Linked DNA regions of Homo sapiens. The protein of the gene in region 1 purifies or fractionates together with the protein of each later gene. This does not show direct contact. Each region holds a gene or a part of one and is shown on either strand. Other genes may lie near its edges. The genes, in order: IFT80, KATNIP and IFT172.

Region 1 (3,500 bases):
GGGGTAATACCACACTATAAATCGAGTATCTTGAAGTCCACAAAGGATATTGCATGTATCGTTCCATGCCAAAGTATGCACCATTGTTCCTTAATTTAAAAAGAATGTTAATGTGCTATTAGCTTTAATATGTAAGAATTAAAAATAGATCTTTAAAATGCCTGACAAACAAAATCCCATACAATTTCTGGTAGATATGACTCTACTTTCTGATTCTATAATGGTGAAAAACACATACCAAACAATCACACAAGAATTTACAGAAATATTTGAATGCTTTACTTAGAACCCTTATATTTTTAATCTGTAAATCTTTCTTTCAGTGACAATTTAGCTGCAGCAGCTAAAGACTTGCTAATAAGTTAATCCTCTTGCCCTCAGGCCATCAAGCTCCAGATGATCCTCAGTGAGGAATACCGTCCCCTCAATATTCAAGAGTCACTCTTCTACAGGGGACCCCTAGTCTGCCCATCAGTGGGACATGACAGAGGTGAAGTCCTCCCTTGTCTCCCTTGGACCTAGCTGCATACTGCTTTCACCAACCCACGGAGCCACCCTGCCCTGACAGCTAGCAAGAGGCCAAGATCCACAGAATAACCACCATTGCCCCTCTGTCAGCAGGAAGCAGTTACAGAAGACTGACTTTTGTCCATTTTCCCCATAGAATTGGGGTCTTGGACTCTTGAGGGTGGAAATGTTACAGCAGGTAGTCAGGCAGACATGAGCAAGTCAGGAGAGGCCCCTGCCACCAGCACCAGGAATGTCAGGTGACCATCAGGTGATGGTCAGGCTGTTGTTAAGCTGTCTCTCTAAAATAATAATTGGTTGCAGCCAGTGCCAGGGAAAGGTAGTCTCTCAATATAAACACTGAAACTGGAAATCAGTAGCTTCTCAATAAGATCTCAAGAGCTAGGTGAGTGGGCTCACACATGACTAACAGGCAAAATGGTGGAGGAGTTTAACTGGTATACAAACTTCCTCTAGAAACACTGGAGTGGTAAGGGAAAAACGCCTCAAGTGAGCATGTGTATAACTTTAGTAAACACACTGTGCATGTGGCCCCTCCCAGGTGTTGGCAGGCCACTATGCATGTGGACAGCCCACCCAAGGGAAGAATTAGGGCAGAAGGGTTGCAACTCCCCAGAAGCATGCCAAAGTATAAAACCCCAAGTCAAAGATCAAACAGTGCACTTGATCTCTCAAGCTGCCTGCTTGCCCTCTACCAAGTTTACTTTATTTCCTTTCTTTCCTGCTCTAAAGCTTTCAAATAGGCCAGGCCCAGTGGCTTACGCCTGTAATCCCAGCACTTTAAGAGACTGAGGCAGGTGGATGGCTTGAGCTCAGGAGTTCGAGACCAGCCTGGGCAACATGGTGAAACCTTGTCTCTACCAAAAATACAAAAAAATTTAGCTGGATGTGGTGGCACATGACTGTAGTCCTAGCTACTTGGGAGGCTGAGGCAGGAGAATCACTTGAGCCCAGGAAGCGGAGGTTTTGGTGACCTTGATCTTGCCACTCCACTCCAGCATGGGTGACAGAGTGAGACCCTGTCTCAATAAAACACAATAAAAATTTAAAAATAAAGCTTTTTAATAAACTTTCACTCCTACTTTTTTAAAAAAAGGGTTAAATAGCTAAGAAGTATTACAAGATCAAAACATTAAAACATTTCCAGATTCATTCAAATTATTTATTACAGCAAATATAAGAAAGTTGACAATTAAAACTTAAAATGTATTAAAATTATTTTACCAAGCTTGATAATTTGTTCTTCCTTCCCAAATCGTTTCACAGAAGTGATACAGAGATCTCTATTTTTATCAATGAAAGCAATTTTTCTATCATTGGTAAGTCCTTTTTGATCCAGAGCAATTTCCAAGATTTCATTCTAAAATTTTTTTTAAATGTAAATACTGGGTTAGTTTTAGTGTTTGACATAAGATCATTTTAATTAATTATAAAATCATTTCCTTTAAGATCAATTAAATGTCATTTCCCCATTTATAATGATAAAATGTCCCTGTTAAATAATTTTAAACTGCCAATATGTTAATCGTTCAAAAGCTGCACTGAAGTATATTTGCCTGACATCCAAGGAAAAGATACCTCTTAAAATACAATAAAATAATATGTATTTTGATATTCTGTAGGCTGAGAAACACTCGATCTGTCCTGTCCTACCTTTCGTAGTCAAGGTGAAAGGGTCAGGCAATTCTGAGTATCATATGAGAGGTCTATTTTGATTAATAAGTTGCCTAACAACTATATCTTAAATATTTGTAAAAAAAATTTTGGAAATATGTGGAAATACATCATGTGTCCAGGGCCTTAAATTCTATAGATTCTCTCACATTCATTCTTGCAAAATAGGAAACAAGCTTGTAATGTAGGTATTACTATACTTACTTTGCAAATCAGAAGACTAGACTCATATTCACTAAGTGATTTTGCTCAGAAAAAGCCAGTGTCAAGTATATCTAAACTTGCAACTCAGACTTCTAACTCCAAGATCACTGCTTTTCATTTGCTAGTGAGATGAATTTTACTATAACTTGAAAATGTTTTAATATAGATTCATTTTAATTCAAACCAAGCAAGATTTATTTACCTCCTACAATGTCTGAAGACTTTGGTAGGAATTGTGAATTCAACCAGAATAATGACTACAACATCAAGTCATTGTATCAAAATGTACTATAAAAAACACTTTTTAAAGTAAAACAAAACACACATACACCTTTATCCAAATTGATGAATCAGTCATATACCAGTTCATAATACATTTTAAAAAGTTCAACTCTTTCTGGAATACCATAATTTATATTTTAAGAAAGAAAAGAATTTGGTTTCATATATATCAAGGCATGCATGAAATATAACTCTAGGTATTTTCAAAATGGAAATGTTTCAGAGAAACTGATCTTTACAATAAAGAATTGCTTATCATCGTCATCATCATCATCAGAACCTAGTGTATTCTTTTAAAAACACTGTTAAACAGATATGATTCTCCTAAGAAATTAAAAATCAAAGATGGATAGTAATTATAGTAATGCCTATGTACATAGGGGAAGAGGGGCTCCCCCACTTCATTCAGCAGGGCTTCCCCCATTTTCCTCTTGTCAAGTCCTACCACCTCCACATAGGTTCTATTCCTCCTGGGTTACTCTTTGTAGTGGGACATAAAAGCAGTTTTGTGTTCATTAGAACCGTCTCCCTTGCCCTACACTAATTAATATTCATTTACTAATACACAGACTTGAGTTCTAGTTTGGGCTCTGTTATTGGGAAGATCCTGGATATGAATTTCTTCCACATATAAAATAAAATAGATTGGGTGATTTTTCTATTATTTTATAGAATGTAAAATTTAAAAATCCTTTGTATTGCATACAAATGTACTGGGTAATTGGGTGAAGTGTGACATGTAGAAGACACTTCCATTCTTATAATTAGGAAATTATAAATTTCTTAATTTTAATTGTAAATTAAATTATTTT
Region 2 (3,729 bases), on another chromosome or scaffold:
GGTAACTTCTGGACTCAGAACAAGTTCTCCGGATGATTTCTTCACACGACGGGGTGCAGAACCATGCCGATGATGGGATAAATTCCAAAGCTCTCCACATGACATACAGTAACCTTCACAAATGGTCCCCACCTCGCTCTCCTCTCTCACTGCCAGCCTAAATGCCCCTATGTCACGCAGGTTCAACTCTCTTCCTTCCATGCTTAAGATAAAATCACATCTCCTGCTACTGTTTCACTTGTGTCATCCTCTTTACAGCAAAACTCTTTTTCCAGCTTTATCGGGGAATAGAATACACACCCCATACAATAAACTGTGCATATTTAACGGGTACAGCTTGATCAGTTTTAACATGTGTCTACGCCAATGAAGCCATCACACTCAAGAGAACAAACGTACCTATCACCCTAAGGTTTCCTCGTGCCCCTTGGTAACCCCTGTCTCCCCTTCCTCCTTCCCTGGCTCCAGGCAACCACCCACTTATGGTCCCTCCCTATATACTGATCGTCCTTTCTGGAATGTTTACATAAAGGAATCATGTTGCATGTAGTCTTTTTTGCTCGGCTCTTTCAGTCACCATAACTGCTCTGAGATTCACCTGTGTTATGGGAACTGATAGTTCCTTTCCTTTCTACTGCTAAGGAATATTCCATTGCAGGGCCCCCCGCATGATCTGTCCGTCACCCCGTCAGTGAATCTCTGAGTGTCACTGTCCCCGTGGGCTCCTCCTCCCACTACCCCTTGTTCCTCCTCCCGTTGGGCTTCTGCCTCCACCTCCACATGGAACCCACCTGGCCCGGGCACCTGTAACTAGGGTGACGGGCCATCCTAGTTTGTCTGGGACAATTCTGATTTATATCTGTTATCCTGGTGTCATTACTAATGACTCTCAGAAGTGTCTGGTTCCTAAAGTAAATTACAGGGTCCAGCTGACTGCCATACGCAATAGGAATTTCTCCTAGGAGTGGGTGGGTGTGGCGGCTCGGCAGTACTCGGCAGCTTCCCCTCCTTTGCGATGACTTTCCTCCCTGGGGCTTGTGTGGCTCTGCACCCACCTGGCTTTCCTCCTGCCTCGCTGGCTGAGCCTGCCCGACTCCTGGGTTGCTTCCTTTTCTTCGGCTGCACTTTGAACGACTAGGCTGCCCAGGGCTCAGTCCTAGGCCTCCCGAGTGCTCTTCCCTTGCTCTCCAGGTGGTCTCATTCAGGTCCCAGGCTCCCAGTTATTTTCATCTCCAACCCTGACCTCTCCACCAAGCCCCAAGTGACTGCTTGGCCTCTCTTCCTGGATATCTAACAGGAATTCCAATATAAAATGCCCAAAACAGAATGCTCTCTTTTTTTTTTAAGAGACAAGGTCTTGCTCTGTTGCCCAGGCTGGCGTTACAGTGGCTCGATCAGGGTTCACTGCAACCTGAATTTCTGGGCTCAAGTGACCCTCCCATCTCAGCATCCTGGATAGCTGGGACTACAGGTACACGTCACCACGACCAGCTAATTAAAATAAATTTTTTTTTGTAGAGACGGGGTCTCACTATGTTGTCCAGGCTGGTCTTGAGCCCCTGGGCTCAAGGGATCCTCCTGCCTTGGCCTCCCAAAGTGCTGGGATTACAGGTGTGAGTCAATGTGCCTGGTGTGCCTGAAACAGAATTCTGAAATCACTTTCTCCACACTTAGTCTTAAACTATCTTAAAAATGGGTCCATCATTCGAGCGGTTGCTAAAAAGCTTGCCGTCCCCTCGTCCCCTCTCACTTTCTCACTCATATCCAGTATGTGGGCACGTCCCTCGGCTCTCTCTCCAGAACACGCCCTGGAGCTGACCTCCTTGCCCGCGTGTGCTGCTGCCTGGGCCACCAGGGTCTCCCCCAGAGACACCACCATCGCCTCCTAGTTGGTCTCTCTGCCTCCACTCTGGGCTGTCTCCCCCAAACCCTGCACTCACTTCATTTTCCACACAGCAGTGAGTCTTTTTTTAACAACTGAAATCAGATCATGGGAGCCTCCTGCTTAAAGCTGCCCAGTGACTTCCTATGGCACTGACAAGAAATCCTACTCCCCTTCAGGGGTGCCTGCTGACCTCTCTGACTCCGGCTCCTGGCGCTTGCCTCGATTCCTTGATGTGGCTCAGCCTGTTCCTCCTGCCTTAGAGCCTGTGCACTTGCCTGGCGTGTTCTGCCGCAGATGCCCACAGCCTTGCTCCTTCTTCTGTTCAGGACCTTCAGTGAACACACCTCTAGGGCAGCCCCACCTCATCGGTCCCCTCTTTATCTTATTGCCCTGTTTTATTTCCTTTTAGTCTCTGAATGGTCTTGCTTATCAGCTTTTAACTTATTTATTGTTTTTCCCACTCAAAGTTAGGCTCCAAGACAGCTGAAGCCCTGCCCGTCTTGTCCAAGGGCACATTGTAGCCACCCAACAATTATTTTTGGGCCAGGCGCAGTGGCTCATGCTTGTAATCCCAACACTTTGGTAGGCCGAGGTGGATGGATCACCTGAGGTCAGGAGTTCGAGACCAGTCTGGCCAACATGATGAAACCCCGTCTCTACTAAAAATACAAAAATTAGCCAGGCATGATGGCGTGAGCCTGTAATCCCAGCTACTCGGGAGGCTGAGGCAGGAGAATCACTTGAACCTGGGAGGGGGAGGTTGCAGTGAGCTGAGATCGTGCCATTGTACTCCAGCCTGGGTGACGACAGTGAAGCTCCGTCTCAAAATAAATAAATAAATTACTTTGGAATAGCAAATGAATAAACATGGGTTTTCTCTCCTGAACAGCACTGCTGTCTCAACAGTGCTCTAAGAATGAACCTGATCAGAAAAGCGGCGGCCTGTGGGTTTCACCTCCAGATCGTTTATTTCCCGTGTTGCCTTGGCTTCTGATCTGCTCTTGGGAGACAGAATCTGAGACCCTGGAGATGTTCACCTATACTAACCCCTTCTTAGCCTTCCTGAAAGCTAGGTGAGTAGGAGCTAACAAATTTCAGGATCACTGAGTTACAGAGGTTTCCGCAGCAATTTAGAAGGAGAACTGTCCGGCCTGCGTTACGCCACAGGAACTCGGCTTCAATCCTCCAATTGCAGATGGCAGGCTACCATTTGCCGACTGTCAGAAAAGTCGATTCTCAAAGCACTCTTTTACCTGCTTATATGGATGGATTCTCTGTTTAGCAGAGGCACAGAGCAAGTGCGTGCTGTGAATTCACCGGGGAACAGCTATTTGAGAAGGACAGCATGGGCAGTTTTCAATGACTGGTTCTGCAAAATTACTGCCACAGGGATATCTGGTGAGACAGAAACACCTTCCTTTAAAGAGGTAGTGGGTGATGGGGAAACCATCTAGTCCAGCACAGTCACAAGGTGGGCATCCTAGCTTTCCTAATAGGGTGGCCGGCTTCCACAACATGGCCACCCATCTTCCTTCCCCAGTCCAGAGCCCATCTGACCTCCAGCCCTGTTCCCACCAAGACGTCTGGCGGAGAGGGAACTGAGAGAGGGAAGCAGGCGGAGGCAGGGGTCAGGCTTGTAAGAGAGGAGTGGGCTCAGGTGGAAATCAGTGGTATGCAGGGGTCACAGGGAGGTGGGAGGGTCGTACCCTGCCTGGCAGCTCTGAGCTCTGAAAGGTTTCCAGCACTCTGCAGGCCAAACAAGCCACATTCATGGGCAGATGTGGCCCAAGGATCACCAGAGTGGGGTCCCCATAGGGAATATTAGTCACTTCTCTGGATATTCT
Region 3 (3,729 bases), on another chromosome or scaffold:
CCCCTCCAGTCCAGAGCCTGTCTTTGCAATTCTTGTGCATAGGGGTAGATCCAGGTTTTGTGGGCCGGAAGCTTATACAATTTGAGGAGCTCTCTTTAAGAACAGTTGCCTTAGGCCAGGCGTGGTGGCTCACACCAGTAATCCCAGCACGCTGGGAGGCTGAGGCAGGTGGATCACATGAGGTCAGGAGTTCAAGACCAGCCTGGCCACATGGTGAAACCCCATCTCTACTAAAAATACAAAAAATTAGCCAGGAGTGGTGGCACACGCCTGTAATCCCAGCTACTCGGGAGGCTGAGGTGGGAGAATCGCTTGAGCCAAGGAAGCAGAGGTTGCAGTGAGCCCGAGATCACACAACTGCACTTCAGCCTCGGCAACAGAGTGAGACTCCATCTCAAGAAAAAGAACAGTTGCCTTGGAAAGGGTGTGTGCAAATAAGGAGCCCTGAAGCTTAAGCTTCTTTTAGTTTCCCAGTATTTCTGTTGGTATAGTAGTTAAAAGGCTTTTGGTCCTCATGGGCTGGCATCTTAGCCAGGCTGAGGAGAGCTTGCTGCTTTCTGATCCTCATATCTTTCTGGTGTCCCTCTCTGCTCTGCCTGTTTCCCCTAGAATGCTGTGGAGGAGGCCATGGGCATGTACCAGGAGCTACACCGTTGGGATGAGTGTATCGCTGTGGCTGAAGCCAAGGTACCTGTTTTATCTTCTCCACAGTTGTTCAGAATTTGGTTCTGCCAATTTCAAAAACCTCCTTTTGTCAAGGAGGCCATAGAAACCAGAACAGGGTTGGGGCTTGGACTTGATGTGGTGAGGAGTTAGGATACTGCTGACCCAGGAGGATTCCCCTTGTTATAGAGGGATTGGAGAAGCATGGGAGGCAGAAGGGTAGGAAGGGGGATGTGACTCCTAGTTGTCCTCTGTGCATGTCCAGGGGCACCCAGCCCTGGAGAAGCTACGTCGTAGTTACTACCAGTGGCTGATGGACACACAGCAAGAGGAGCGAGCAGGTGAACTACAGGAGAGCCAAGGGGATGGGCTAGCAGCCATCAGCCTCTACCTCAAAGCTGGGCTCCCTGCCAAAGCTGCTCGGCTGGTGCTGACCCGAGAGGAACTGCTAGCCAACACAGAGCTGGTAGAACACATCACTGCAGCCCTTATCAAGGGGGAACTCTACGAAAGGGTATGCTGGCTTCCTTTTCCTAGCCCTTATCTCCAGAGCTCAGGACCCTTCCCTTACCCAGAGGAGTCTTGGGGTGCAGAGCGCTTCCTGACTGCTGGTGTTCCCTTGTTTTCGGAGCTAATACTTAGTTCTTTGTGTTGTAGGGGTATCATAGTAATGTGGTATGTGTTAACAGGCAGGTGATCTCTTTGAGAAGATTCACAATCCACAGAAGGCCCTGGAGTGCTACCGTAAAGGCAACGCATTCATGAAAGGTACTAGCCACCTATAAGCCATCCTTTACTGTTGTGGACTCTTGCCCATCTGGTTCCCTGGCACCTCTTGTAGGGGTGGGTTGCCCCTACACACCTGTGGGTGTTTCTCGTAAGGTGGGACGAGAGATTTGGAAAAGAAAAAGACACAGAGACAAAGTATAGAGAAAGAAATAAGGGGACCCGGGGAACCAGCGTTCAGCATATGGAGGATCCCGCCAGCCTCTGAGTTCCCTTAGTATTTATTGATCATCTGTGGGTGTTTCTCAAAGAGGGGGATGTGTCAGGGTCACAAGACAATTGTGGGGAGAGGGTCAGCAGACAAACACGTGAACAAAGGTCTTTGCATCATAGACAATGTAAAGGATTAAGTGCTGTGCTTTTAGATATGCATACACATAAACATCTCAATGCTTTACAAAGCAGTATTGCTGCCCGCAGGTCCCACCTCCAGCCCTAAGGCGGTTTTTCCCTATCTCAGTAGATGGAGCATACAATCGGGTTTTATACCGAGACATTCCATTGCCCAGGGACGGGCAGGAGACAGATGCCTTCCTCTTGTCTCAACTGCAAGAGGCATTCCTTCCTCTTTTACTAATCCTCCTCAGCACAGACCCTTTACGGGTGTCGGGCTGGGGGACGGTCAGGTCTTTCCCTTCCCACGAGGCCATATTTCAGACTATCACATGGGGAGAAACCTTGGACAATACCTGGCTTTCCTAGGCAGAGGTACCTGCGGCCTTCCGCAGTTTTTGTGTCCCTGGGTACTTGAGATTAGGGAGTGGTGATGACTCTTAAGGAGCATGCTGCCTTCAAGCATCTGTTTAACAAAGCACATCTTGCACCGCCCTTAATCCATTCAACTCTGAGTGGACACAGCACATGTTTCAGAGAGCACGGGGTTGGGGGTAAGGTTATAGATTAACAGAATCTCAAGGCAGAAGAATTTTTCTTAGTACATAACAAAATGGAGTCTCCTATGTCTACTTCTTTCTACACAGACACAGTAACAATCTGATCTCTCTTGCTTTTCCCCACACCTCTTGGTGCGTGTGTTCAGGATGCCTGGCTCCAGTCCTCCATTCCTCCCCTTCTTACCTATTCTCCATGCTTCATCTCCCTGTCCTACCTTTTTCCTGAGGCCCATCCCTGGAAATCTGGGCTGAGCATCTTTTCTCTCCCTGGCAGCGGTAGAGCTGGCTCGATTGGCCTTCCCAGTGGAGGTGGTGAAACTAGAGGAGGCATGGGGGGACCACCTGGTGCAGCAGAAGCAGCTTGATGCAGCCATTAATCACTACATCGAAGCCAGGTATGGGAGTATGGGAATGTAAAGGAGATTTAGGTGTGAAGTGAGGGGCAGTGGAGCAAGTAAGGACACCAAGGCCTTAAAGAAGAGATCTCAAAATGTAGGTTGAAGTGTGCTTAAAGGGTCCTTTTACCTCCATTCATCTTCATCTTTCATCCTACATATTTATATCTTTCCCAACTTTGCCAGGTGCTCCATTAAGGCAATTGAGGCCGCCCTGGGTGCCCGCCAGTGGAAGAAGGCAATTTATATATTAGATCTACAGGACCGGAACACTGCATCCAAATACTATCCTCTCGTGGCCCAACACTATGCATCCCTGCAGGAGTATGAGGTGAGGAAGAGTCCCTTTCCGCAGCACGAGGCAATGCAGTAGAGGATAACAATGAGAGAACCCAAAGCAGGAAGTGGAGGCAAGTTCACCAGATCCTTCTTTCTGGGCTCCAAACAGCATCATCACCTTGAAGGGGAAGAGAACAGTTTACTTTCCCATTTTCATTCCAGTGTGACACAGATATCGCCCTTCACCCCAGATATATAAAGTGAGTCTCTAGCTGTGTTCCAGTCAGCGTGATTCTTCATGAATAATGCTAACATAGTTATGATATAAAATTGCTTTGCATTGCAGAAATGTGAGGCCCTTTTGGATTCCACTGTTTGGGGCTGGTCTTTCTTTTTAAATGGTAGAATGTATGAGACACCCATACTCATCTTTTCTTCTCTATTATTACAAGGTTGTATCGCAGGCTCTCCACCATCCCAGCCAAGGTTTGTTCTTTCCTCATTCAAGCTGCTTTAAGTCTGTTGCTCTGACCTTTTGTATCTACCTCCCATCAACTACAGATTGCTGAGGAGCTCTATACTAAGGGAGATCGGACAAAAGATGCCATAGACATGTACACCCAGGCTGGTCGTTGGGAACAAGCCCACAAGGTAGGGATGGGTGGAGTTCATGATAAGAGAACTCTGCCTTAGTGGCATTGTGGCCTCATTCC

What was found.
Region 2: the proteins of IFT80 (region 1) and KATNIP purify together in Homo sapiens (tandem affinity purification; one large-scale study listed by IntAct). This does not show direct contact.
Region 3: the proteins of IFT80 (region 1) and IFT172 purify together in Homo sapiens (affinity purification with mass spectrometry; one large-scale study listed by BioGRID and IntAct). This does not show direct contact.

What each region holds. Positions count from the first base shown.
Region 1 is NC_000003.12:160,280,726-160,284,225, forward strand, and holds part of IFT80 (intraflagellar transport protein 80 homolog), read right to left. Parts: intron 1,889-3,500; coding exon 1,753-1,888; intron 90-1,752; coding exon 1-89.
Region 2 is NC_000016.10:27,735,000-27,738,728, reverse strand, and holds part of KATNIP (katanin-interacting protein), read right to left. Parts: intron 3,235-3,729; exon of another isoform or gene 3,139-3,234; intron 1-3,138. UniProt on the Homo sapiens protein: May influence the stability of microtubules (MT), possibly through interaction with the MT-severing katanin complex.
Region 3 is NC_000002.12:27,458,717-27,462,445, reverse strand, and holds part of IFT172 (intraflagellar transport protein 172 homolog), read left to right. Parts: intron 1-609; coding exon 610-687; intron 688-928; coding exon 929-1,177; intron 1,178-1,352; coding exon 1,353-1,431; intron 1,432-2,616; coding exon 2,617-2,737; intron 2,738-2,923; coding exon 2,924-3,068; intron 3,069-3,577; coding exon 3,578-3,667; intron 3,668-3,729. UniProt on the Homo sapiens protein: Required for the maintenance and formation of cilia. Plays an indirect role in hedgehog (Hh) signaling, cilia being required for all activity of the hedgehog pathway.